Regions from separate parts of the Homo sapiens genome. Here region 2 is linked to region 1. The links come from fine-mapping of genetic effects on gene expression. A gene starts in region 1. The other region holds a variant in brackets. All regions are shown on one strand. Distances are from middle to middle.

Region 1 (5,469 bases):
GAACTACAAACCACTGCTCAATGAAATAAAAGAGGACACAAACAAATGGAAGAACATTCCATGCTCATGGATAGGAAGAATCAATATTGTGAAAATGGCCATACTGCCCAAGGTAATTTATAGATTCAATGCCATCCCCATCAAGCTACCAATGACTTTCTTCATGGAATTGGAAAAAACTACTTTAAAGTTCATATGGAACCAAAAAAGAGCCTGCATTGCCAAGTCAGTCCTAAGCAAAAAGAACAAAGCTGGAGGCATCACGCTACCTGACTTCAAACTATACTACAAGGCTACAGTAACCAAAACAGCATGGTACTGGTACCAAAACAGAGATATAGATCAATGGAACAGAACAGAGCCCTCAGAAATAATACCACACATCTACAACTATCTGATCTTTGACAAACCTGACAAAAACAAGAAATGGGGAAAGGATTCCCTACTTAACAAATGGTGCTGGGAAAACTGGCTAGCCATATGTAGAAAGCTGAAACTGGATCCCTTCCTTACACCTTATACAAAAATTAATTCAAGATGGATTAAAGACTTAAATGTTAGACCTAAAACCATAAAAACCCTAGAAGAAAACCTAGGCAATACCATTCAGGACATAGGCATGGGCAAGGACTTCATGTCTAAAACACCAAAAGCAATGGCAACAAAAGCCAAAATTGACAAATGGGATCTAATTTAACTAAAGAGCTTCTGCACAGCAAAAGAAACTACCATCAGAGTGAACAGGCAACCTACAGAATGGGAGAAAATTTTTGCAACCTACTCATCTGACAAAGGGCTAATATCCAGAATCTACAAAGAACTCAAACAAATTTACAAGAAAAAAACAAACAACCCCATCAAAAAGTGGGTGAAGGATATGAACAGACACTTCTCAAAAGAAGACATTTATGCAGACAAAAAACACATGAAAAAATGCTCATCATCACTGGCCATCAGAGAAATGCAAATCAAAACTACAATGAGACATCTTCTCACAGCAGTTAGAATGGTGATCATTAAAAAGTCAGGAAACAACAGGTGCTGGAGAAGATGTGGAGAAACAGGAACACTTTTACACTGTTGGTGGGACTGTAAACTAGCTCAACCATTGTGGAAGTCAGTGTGGCGATTCCTCAGGGATCTAGAACTAGAAATACCATTTGACCCAGCCATCCCATTACTGGGTATATACCCAAAGGAATATAAATCATGCTGCTATAAAGACACATGCACATGTATGTTTATTGCAGCACTACTTACAATAGCAAAGACTTGGAACCAACCCAAACGTCCAACAATGATAGACTGGATTAAGAAAATGTGGCACATATACACCATGGGATACTATGCAGCCATAAAAAAGAATGAGTTCATGTCCTTTGTAGGGACATGGATGAAGCTGGAAACCATCATTCTCAGCAAACTATCGCAAGGACAAAAAACCAAACACCACATGTTCTCACTCATAGGTGGGAATTGAACAATGAGAACACTTGGACACAGGAAGGGGGAGATCACACACCGGGGCCTGTTGTGGGGTGGGGTGAGTGGGGAGGGATAGCATTAGGAGATATACCTAATGTAAATGACAAGTTAATGGGTGCAGCACACCAACATGGCACATGTATACATATGTAACAAACCTGCACGTTGTGCATATGTACCCTAGAACTTAAAGTATAATTTTAAAAAAATTAAAAAAAAGAAAGAAAAAATCCTCCAGTCTGAAGGCATTAAGTTATCAAAAAGCAAAATATTAAAATATAAAATTTTAGATGGGCACCCACTGTGTTGCCCTGATTATCCCCCTAGAATGCTACATGCTGGAAAGAGGGGCCTTAGCAGGTTTCTAAGTCTTTAACCTTCAGGTGGAAAAATGGGGAAACACACAAGAGACACTCCTACGTATAGTTTCAGAAAGAAGTTTAATTAAAAAACAGCTTTTGAGAATAAACATTCTGGAGATGCTTCTAAATCTTCTGGGTTTCTTTTGGTTGTATCTCTTTCTCCATACAGATTTGTTCTTTCAACTCAAGGACTATCAACTCTTTTTTTTTTTTTGAGACTGAGTCTCACTTTGTCGCCCAGGCTAGAGTGCAGTGGCGCCATCTCGGCTCACTGCAAGCTCCACCTCCCGGGTTCACGCCATTCTCCTGCTTCAGTCTCCCGAGTAGCTGGGACTACAGGCGCCCGCCACCACGCCCGGCTAATTTATTTATTTATGTATTTATTTTTGTATTTTTAGTAAAGATGGGGTTTCACCGTGTTAGCCAGGATGGTCTCGATCTCCTGACCTCCTGATCCGCCCGCCTCGGGGTCCCAAAGTGCTGGGATTACAGGCGTGAGCCACGGCGCCCGGCCAGGACTATCAACTCTTGTGTTTGGTACACAGGACACAAAGCAGGTGTCCGGTAACTACTTGCGAGGGAAGATACGAATTAACCAAGGAATAAAGTGTTCCAATCTGCATTCTGTCTTGCGTGGGGAACAAAACCAAACTAAGACCCAAGGATGAGGGTTTACGGTTAAGGTCTTCAGCGTGAATAAAAGGCGGCGTGAGCACTAAACGCCGGGGGCAAAGAACACTCCCGGCCCAGAGTTTGACCCCTCCTAGCGAGTTCTTCCCGGCCAGCTGCCCAACTTTTTGGCCTCTACTCCTCCGCGGGGGCACCATAAGACTCCCTACAGGTGGGCTACACTTAGGGGTTCAAATGCTGCATTACCGCGCTCGGGTGAGCGACTGCCCGGCCTGCAACTCAAGGGACTCCCAGGCCAAGTGGCTCCGAACTCGCGAGCTGTCGGAACAGTATTATTTTTGCTGCTACGGGCCATCTGGCCCAGGGCAACAGGGGCTCTGCGAGGAACCATAGAGAAGAAGGGGCGCCAGATCCCGCGTGCCTGCCCACCCGTCCTTCCTTTGGGCAGTCACCCTGAGCTCGGCAAGCTGTACCTCACCTGTCCACCTGGAAGGCTGCCCGCTCTCCCTGAGGGTCCTGGGAAGGCGGCACGAGACCGGAAGTGCCCCCCTCAGGTGACGTCACAGTACCGCGCCGGAGCTGATCCGGGAAGCCGATGTCAGCCTGGCGCGCGGCGCACAGCTGGCTGGGAGATTTCTTACTGGCTTGGAGCCGGTGGTCCAGATCAGAGAGACCTCTTGGAGGGTGTCGGGGTTTTCCTTTCTTTTTCATTTGAATTTTATCCGCCTTTTATTTTCTGTCATCCTTGATGTGCTTCTGGCTTCTGGCTTCCCTTTCCTTCTCTCTCATTTGTTCCATGTCTGCCCCTCTTTTCTCCCTCTTCCCATTTCCCTCTTTCTGCGTTACTAGTTGCATATCTTCCCCACATACACAGGAAAGTTGATTCTCATTTGATCATGTTCATAAGCATGATCAATAAAGTATTTTTTTAATTAAGGTGTTGCCAACTTTAAGAAAATTCAGAGAATAATATTAAGTATAGAGTTTATTTGGGCTCAGTGCTTGAGAATGGCCACTCAGGAGCTTAGATTCAAGTTGCCTTGAATATACACTCCAATTAGCAGCAGTCGGAGTAGGTTTTTTTTTTTTTTTTTTTTTTTTTTTGAGACGGAGTCTTGCTCTGTCGCCCAGGCCGGACTGCGGACCGCAGTGGCGCAATCTCGGCTCACTGAAAGCTCCGCTTCCCGGGTTCACGCCATTCTCCTGCCTCAGCCTCCCGAGTAGCTGGGACTACAGGCGCCCGCCACCGCGCCCGGCTAATTTTTTGTATTTTTAGTAGAGACGGGGTTTCACCTTGTTAGCCAGGATGGTCTCGATCTCCTGACCTCATGATCCACCCGCCTCGGCCTCCCAAAGTGCTGGGATTACAGGCGTGAGCCGGTTTTTAAGGAAAGGAGAGGAGGCAGAGCTTAACTTGTTTACCAAGAATTTATATTTAAAAAACTTAAGCTATTGACTGGCTATGCTTTCTTCCTTGTATCACAAATTCCAGGAACATAAAGATAATGGGTGAGGCAGCTAATAAAGAACAAAATGCCTTTAACAATTGCCCTAAGGCATGGGAAGGCGTGGCGGAAGCCAGTATTCACTTCTGTCCGGGTCTAATAAATTTTGCATACCTCACATAGCTCAGACAGCTCTGGGCTATTTTTCTTTTCTTAGTATGTACTTTTTTTAGACATAATACTGTTGTACACAATAATCTACAGTACAGTGTAAATATAAATTTTATATGCACTGGGAAACCAAAAAAATTCTGTGAACTGCCTTATTGTGATGTTTGCTTTATTGTGGTAGTATGGAACTGAACCCCCAATATCTTCAAAGTATGCTTGGATTTAAAAAAGAGGTTTACTTAGCTCATGGTTCTGCACATTGGAAAGCTCAAGGGGCATAGTGTGAGCATCTGCTCAGTTCTGGTTAGAGTTTTTTGTGCAGTGTCACAACATGGTAGAAGGTCAAAGGGGAAGCTGATACATGTGAAAACAGACCAAACAGGAGGTGGAAAACAACCCACTCTCTCAGGGACTCTCTCTTTTCCAATCTCTCAAGAGCTGTTATCAAACCAAACTGGAGTCCAATTGCCTGTGCAGCAAGACCAAACACTGACATCAGGATTATAGTGAAAGAAAGTGAGGCATTTATTGTAGGGTCCCAAGCAAGGAGAACTGGTCAGTTAGTGCTTAAGTCTTGAACTCCCTAATTGTTTATAGGTAAGGGTTTTTAAATGCAGGGGTGTCAGAGGTTATAGGCAAAGTCATAAATCAATATATGGAGGTTATATATTGGCTTAACCTAAAAATGCAGTGAGGTAGGATGCAGGAATTGGACACCAGACCAAATTGAGGACTAGCTAAAACAGGGGCAGGGAGGAAGCAGCTTTCCATATTAATGCCCCTTTCCATGGCAACAACCTGACAACCCAGAGGTTACCACCCTTTTCCTAGAAATTTCTGCATAATTCACCCCTTAATTTGCCTGTAATTAAAAATGATTATAAATATGACAGAAGAACTGCCTTTCAGATGCTACTCTGGACACACTGCCTATGGGGTAGCCCTGCTCTGCAAGGAGCAGTATCTCTGCTGCTTCTGGACACTACTACTTCAGTAAAAGTTGCTATTTAACACCACCGGCTCACCCTTGAATTCTTTCTTGGCGAAGCTAAGAACTCTACTGGGCAAATCCCCAATTTGGGGCTTGCCTGCCGTGCATTGGCGGGGCATCTCAAAGAGGGGGGCCCACAGGTCATAGGTGGAATTTAAGGATTTTCTGATTTGTGATTTGTTAAGAAGGTGAAACTCTCTAAAAATTTGATATCAGCAGAAAAGGATATTAGCTTGGGCTCATGGGCATGGCCTCCTTTAAGCACCTCAAGAAGAAATTTAGAACAAAGAATAGTAGTCAGAGTTTAGCCTTCAATTCTCCCTTATTTGAGGCCTGTGTGCCAGTGGATCCATTTAGTGGGGATCTGGGTTTCTGAAAAACAACT
Region 2 (5,286 bases), 140 kb before region 1:
GCCACAACCAGTTCTGCATCTAGCTCCTGCCCAGACCTTTGGCTGCCAGAATCTAGAACCATGGCTGACCAAAGCGAGACTTCCGAGTAAGGTTCGTTAACAGGCATCCTGCTGAATTAGAAGGAAACAGGAACGAATCCAAAGCAAACGGGGCTAAACTTCCCTCGAGGACATTTCCTGAGCTGCAACATGGGAAGCGACAGCACCGAAGCTGGTGAGCTGGTGCAACTGCACACACCTTTTCTCTGGTTTTTAGTACTCACAGGTCATCCTGGGGAGACCGCTCATGGGCTATGGGCAGCCCATGCCTGGATTTTTTGGTGAATGAGTCTGAAAAGCAGTGACCAGGTGTGTTGAGGGCCTCCCCTTGCCTGCACCTTTTTATCTCTGAGTGACTGAGGGCTGCCAAGGCCAGACAACGCACATGTGTCCTGGATCCTCCCCTGGCCTGGGGCAGCAGCAGCAGCAGCAGCTGGGCTTGGGGTGAGTAGGCTGGCTTGAGGAAGGGGCTGCCCACAAGCAGGGCTCATTTCCTGGGTCAGGGCCTGTCAGACTCAAAGTCAGCTCTTCAGCATTCTGTTTAGAAAATGATGATGCAGTTCAGTGAGAAAGAAAGCTCAGGATAAAATATGTTTTCTGGAGGGGAAATACTCAAGTGTTCTAAGCCAGGAACAGAGACTCTCAAGAGAGGAATTCTCTGGCATTCTCTGCCTTGGATAAATCATGGATTAAACATGAGCATCCTTAGAATAATTTTATTTTTGTATTTCACTTTACACTGTAATGCAAACAGCTTTTATGTTTTCTTTGACGAAGAATCATAATTGAGTCACTTTAGGTCTTTTAGCTGGAAGCATTTCACCCTAAATGAAAAGTTAATGCATTTTTTACAAGGATTAACATGCTAACTACAACTTGCCCTTTCAGCAGATGACAATAAGGGATTCTGAAAAGTTTGGACTGTCTTTTTCTTTTTGTATACAAATAAAGCAGCAGATCCTTTCTCTGTGAAGGTTGTTGCAGAGCTCCCGTACCAGCTTATAAAATGCGGCTGTTTAAGCAGGACTTGGGTGGGCAGCAGAATTCTGCACATGACGAGTGGCTGCAGCTTAGAAAGCAAATTTCATCTGATTCCAGTACTGTGATTTTAAGGAAACGGTAAAACTCAAAGTGCCAGTAATGCCATCAAGGCTCAGTAACATGCCATTTCCTCAGCAGCTAAAGACAAAAAGAATTATTTTGGTGAGGGGATAGAAATCCTTTCGCTTTGCAGTGACACCCACTTTTTCTTAGCTTGGCTTGGGAGTAAGGAGATTGGAGTGTGGGGGGACATTAGAAACTCATTTAAGGCAAACTGAAATCTCCTTCATCAGCAGTCTTCCTGCTGGTGTAGCCACAGCAGAACTCCGAGGCTTGCAGGCTGGGCTGTCTCCTTGCTGCCTGGCTTGGGTGTTTATTTGGGCAATGCAAGCTGACATTGTGAGGTGTTGCCGATGCCCAGGCCAGCTAGCAGGGAGCCCTCCCAGGGCTGGTAGAAACCTATGTGTATATATATTCTCAAATTTAAATAGATTGTACATAGTGAAATGTAAATGACATGTAAAACAGCAATCTCTATTTTTCTTAACTATTATATAGCAGTATATATTTGTTGAACATGCTTGTATACTCTTCATTAACCATTTTAATATTTTGTACAGATAAGTTGATTAAATATTTTATTCATAAAACCGCTCATGACTGGTCTCTAAAGGAAAACATTTTCAGCTTTTGTTACTCAGCCTTTCTGTGTTACTGTAGTCCTCATTAATAGAATAGCGACCAGCTATTGAGGCCTTAGGACTGACTGCATTTTAATAGTGAGAGTGACATAACAGGCCTGACTCCACTTGCCTTTGTGCCGATCATTCCCCTGTATTGTCAGATCAGGTGTGAGGCTGTGGGCCTCTGGTATGGGGGGCTGCACCCTGGGTCTTGGTGACTGGTATGAAACTGTATATGATGCTGCTGCACACAGCCTCACACGGCATGAAGTCACTGCAGAGCAAGGTAAAAAACATCAAGCTTGGGTTCAGGAAAGGAGGCCAAAATGCAGTGGAAAACATTTTCTCTTTGGGAAATGAGCATGATAATGTGTAGAGTGAGCACTGTCATTCCAAATGCAGTTTGGGTGGACAGGTTTTCTGTGTTTATACATCTCAGACTGCTGCAGGACCTGTCTCACTCCAGAAAGCATGAGCCCTCCCCACCTGGAGGATGCACAGGTAAGTCTCTGAAATCCCAAGGCATAAAGTCCCATGGAAGCCGCTTCCTCTGCAAGGCCAATTACATACGTCACAGAACCCAATAAGGTCCTACAGCAAATTCGACAGGC[C/CT]TTTTTTTTTGCCCAGTACTCTTCGAGACAAGTACAAAAGCCTGTGCTTGGTGACACCACGAAGGATGCAGCAGGACAGGATCAACCACACAGCGTTCTGTTGCTATCCCAGCTCTCACAGCTGACTTTTGCCCAGATGGAGAAATCTATTTCATGTGTTCCTTAAATATTTCTGGGAGAGGACTAATGACAGAGCAGGAATTGTAGGAAGTTGACAGGGACTTGGCCTTATTAGTGACTGTTACCAGGATTACCTCTTTTGCGATATGAAGCCTGCTGGAGTGACCCACATTTTCGTCAGTGATGGCAGCCCATGTTCATGGTGAATTCAATATCCCAGTTTGTTAATGCAGGTCCCTGTGGTTATGTAACTTTCTCTCTCTGGTGAAAGATCAAGAAAGCCTGCCTTCTTTTCACCACTCGATTTCCTATTATAAATAAAGGAGTCTCTTCTTTGGAAGAGAAATTGTGTTCCCTTTCCAACTAACTCATTTGGCAGGTACAATCAATGTGTAAGTTCTATGACCCTGCCATCGAAAACTGGAATGTCTTGTCATGCTTTGTTTATAAGCATCTTTGGTCCATTTTTCATTTTCTTATTTTTCAGTCTCCATTTGACCTACCACAGCATTCTGTGGTTAGAGTACACATTCAGTAGAGGAGTAGTTACAGGGAGAAAGGAAAGTCGGGAGTGGCATTAAAAATTTTATCCAATTTCCCAGACACTGATAAGAGCAAATCTAAAAGGCCCGTCCATGACTAATGGTAAAGGCGGCTAAGATTGACTTCTCCACTCCTTCCCTGGTCCTGTCAGGTCCTGGATCTGCCTCTGATGCCTGCTCATTTCCAAGCAGGCCAAGGCAAAGATGCCTCCAACTGCTGTTCCATTGAGGGTGGTGCCCAACGTGGTCATGGATGCATGTGCTCTTGTGTCCTAGGAACCCTGTGACTCATCTGCTCAGAAAGGACAATGATCTGGGGAGAAACTTGTCCACTGTGAGGTGCCACCAGCATGCAGCCCTATAGGCTGTGGGTGTCTGCCGAGTCCTAATCACATGCAGGTGCGTGGCCCTTCACAGTGGCCAGTAGGAGGAAGCCCAGATGTTCTGCAGAGCCTGAGCTGGATGGATTTGCAGAGGCGGGATTCTAGTCCCTCTGTGAGGGAGGGAGACCCTGCAGGTGCACCGCACCCCCTGGCTGTAATGGACGCCCAGTCACAGGGTCACATTCTCATCCCAGGGAAGAGGAATTTTCCCATAGACTTACCCAGCAAGGAAATCTGTCCCAATGTGGGGAGGTCAGCACAGGCCCCTTTGCCAGAATGTTTGAGGAATGCAACACAAAATGAAAATGCTCGATTATCCCAGAGCACAGTCATGTGTATTGTTGCTGTAATTCCCACTCGGGGTGCTGCGCGGGGTTAGTGCTCAGCAAATAATAAACTACATATTTGGTAGTTGCTAATACCCAAACTCCAGAGGTTTTCTAATTGTAGAAGAATGGAAGTAACAGTTGCAGCCATATCAGACAAGATGAATGGGACACAAGGGATAGTGGCCTTGCTTCCTTGCAGTCCCCCAGTGCCAGACACAAACAGTCTGCAAAGATTCAGACATCCTTGAATCTATCTGACCCAGTTGTGCACAGCTCTGCTGGGGAAACACTTAAGGGATAAAAGAGCAAGTGTCCATGTCTGCACTCCCACTGATGTGTCAGTTTTAAGATGAAGAAGCCCAGAGATGTGATTTCCTGGTAGTCCGACCCAATGTGAGAATTGCACTTTTTCACAGCTTGCCTATTAGGTATGGTAGAAACTTTTTATTAATTTAGATAACAAAATTTATAGACTACCCTGTGTAGCAGGCCATATTTGATATGCCCTGACAGCACAGAGATGACTAAGACAGAAGGTCATCTTCTAGGACTCTCCTGAGAGAAGGGGTGTTGGTGGAGGCAGGGAGGAGCAGACTGCAGAGACACAATCCCGCAGCAATGATAAGTCATTCAGTAGACACAGGCCAGGCCAGGGGTCATGAAGACTGGCAGGGCATGGAAGGGTGGGAAGGACCGCTCTGGGAGGCAGGAGCAGTTGGTATTTTAGGCCACGTCTCATGGGGTGGGGTAGAGGATGGGCGTAATCAAAGCTGGAGCAGTGATTCCTGTACAGAGGAGTCCACAGGAAGCTCCCGTGCGTGGCATAAGACCAGGTGGCTATGGAAGAGTTGCAGAGGTGCCGGCCATGTGGCTGCAGCCACAGCACTGACTCCCAGCATGTGGGCTTGCTTTCTCTCAATCCACTGCCTGATGCATATTTTTGCCGTCTGAAAACTGGTCTCTGTTATAGCTTTCATTCTTTTAAAACTACTCATTTGTTACCAACGATCTACTCGTCACTTCTTCTGTCAATCGGGTCCTCATTTGCCCTTTGCGTGACTCTCTTTCCCGGCTCTCCACTTTTGCTAGGCTTGCCCACTGTGGCCTCCAGGAGGCAGCATGATGCAGTGGAAAAAGGGGATGAAGTGGTGGCTCTGGAGTAGAGGCCTGAATTGGAATCTGGCTTAGTTCATTTTCTGTTGCTATAATGGAATATCAGAGACTGGGTAATTTATAAAGAAGAGATTTATTTCTTACAGTTCTGGAGGCTGGAAAGTCCAAGATTGAGGGGCTGGCATCTGGTGAGGACCTTTGTGCTACATCCTCCCTGGCAAAAGGTGGAAGGGCAAGAGAGCATGAGAGAACAAGAGATCAAACTTGCAGCCTAATATTGTGGCTTTTTATCACTGGCATTAATCCATTCAGGAAGGAAGGGCCCTCATGACTCAGACACTTCCTGTTAGGACCCACCTCCCAATAGTTGCATTGGGGATTAAGTCTCTAACACACGAACTTTGGAGGACATGTGCAACTACAGG

Which allele goes with the higher level. Alleles are on the strand shown, and positions count from the first base shown. SD is a standard deviation of normalised expression in the study named.
As copies of CT replace C in region 2, the expression in macrophages of the gene that starts at base 3,020 in region 1 goes up (small effect, 0.36 SD a copy in Nedelec 2016).

The links. PIP is the estimated chance that this variant, and not a neighbour inherited with it, causes the effect. A credible set is the group of variants that fine-mapping cannot tell apart.
Region 2: its variant is the best candidate, but not a certain one, in a credible set for the expression of LDAH in macrophages (Nedelec 2016, PIP 0.72).

The regions. Positions count from the first base shown.
Region 1 is chr2:20,820,082-20,825,550 of GRCh38, forward strand. LDAH (lipid droplet associated hydrolase) reads right to left here and starts at 3,020. Exons shown (of 7, transcript NM_021925.4): 1 at 2,956-3,020. RefSeq lists enhancers at 1,896-2,721, 2,524-2,593, 2,814-3,203.
Region 2 is chr2:20,677,514-20,682,799 of GRCh38, forward strand. It overlaps GDF7 (growth differentiation factor 7), which reads left to right. Exons shown (of 2, transcript NM_182828.4): 2 at 1-1,730. It also overlaps a transcript of LDAH not described here. Among named protein-coding and RNA genes, the nearest start is that of GDF7, 13 kb to the left of the region's middle. The variant C/CT (reference allele first, on the strand shown) is at 2,375.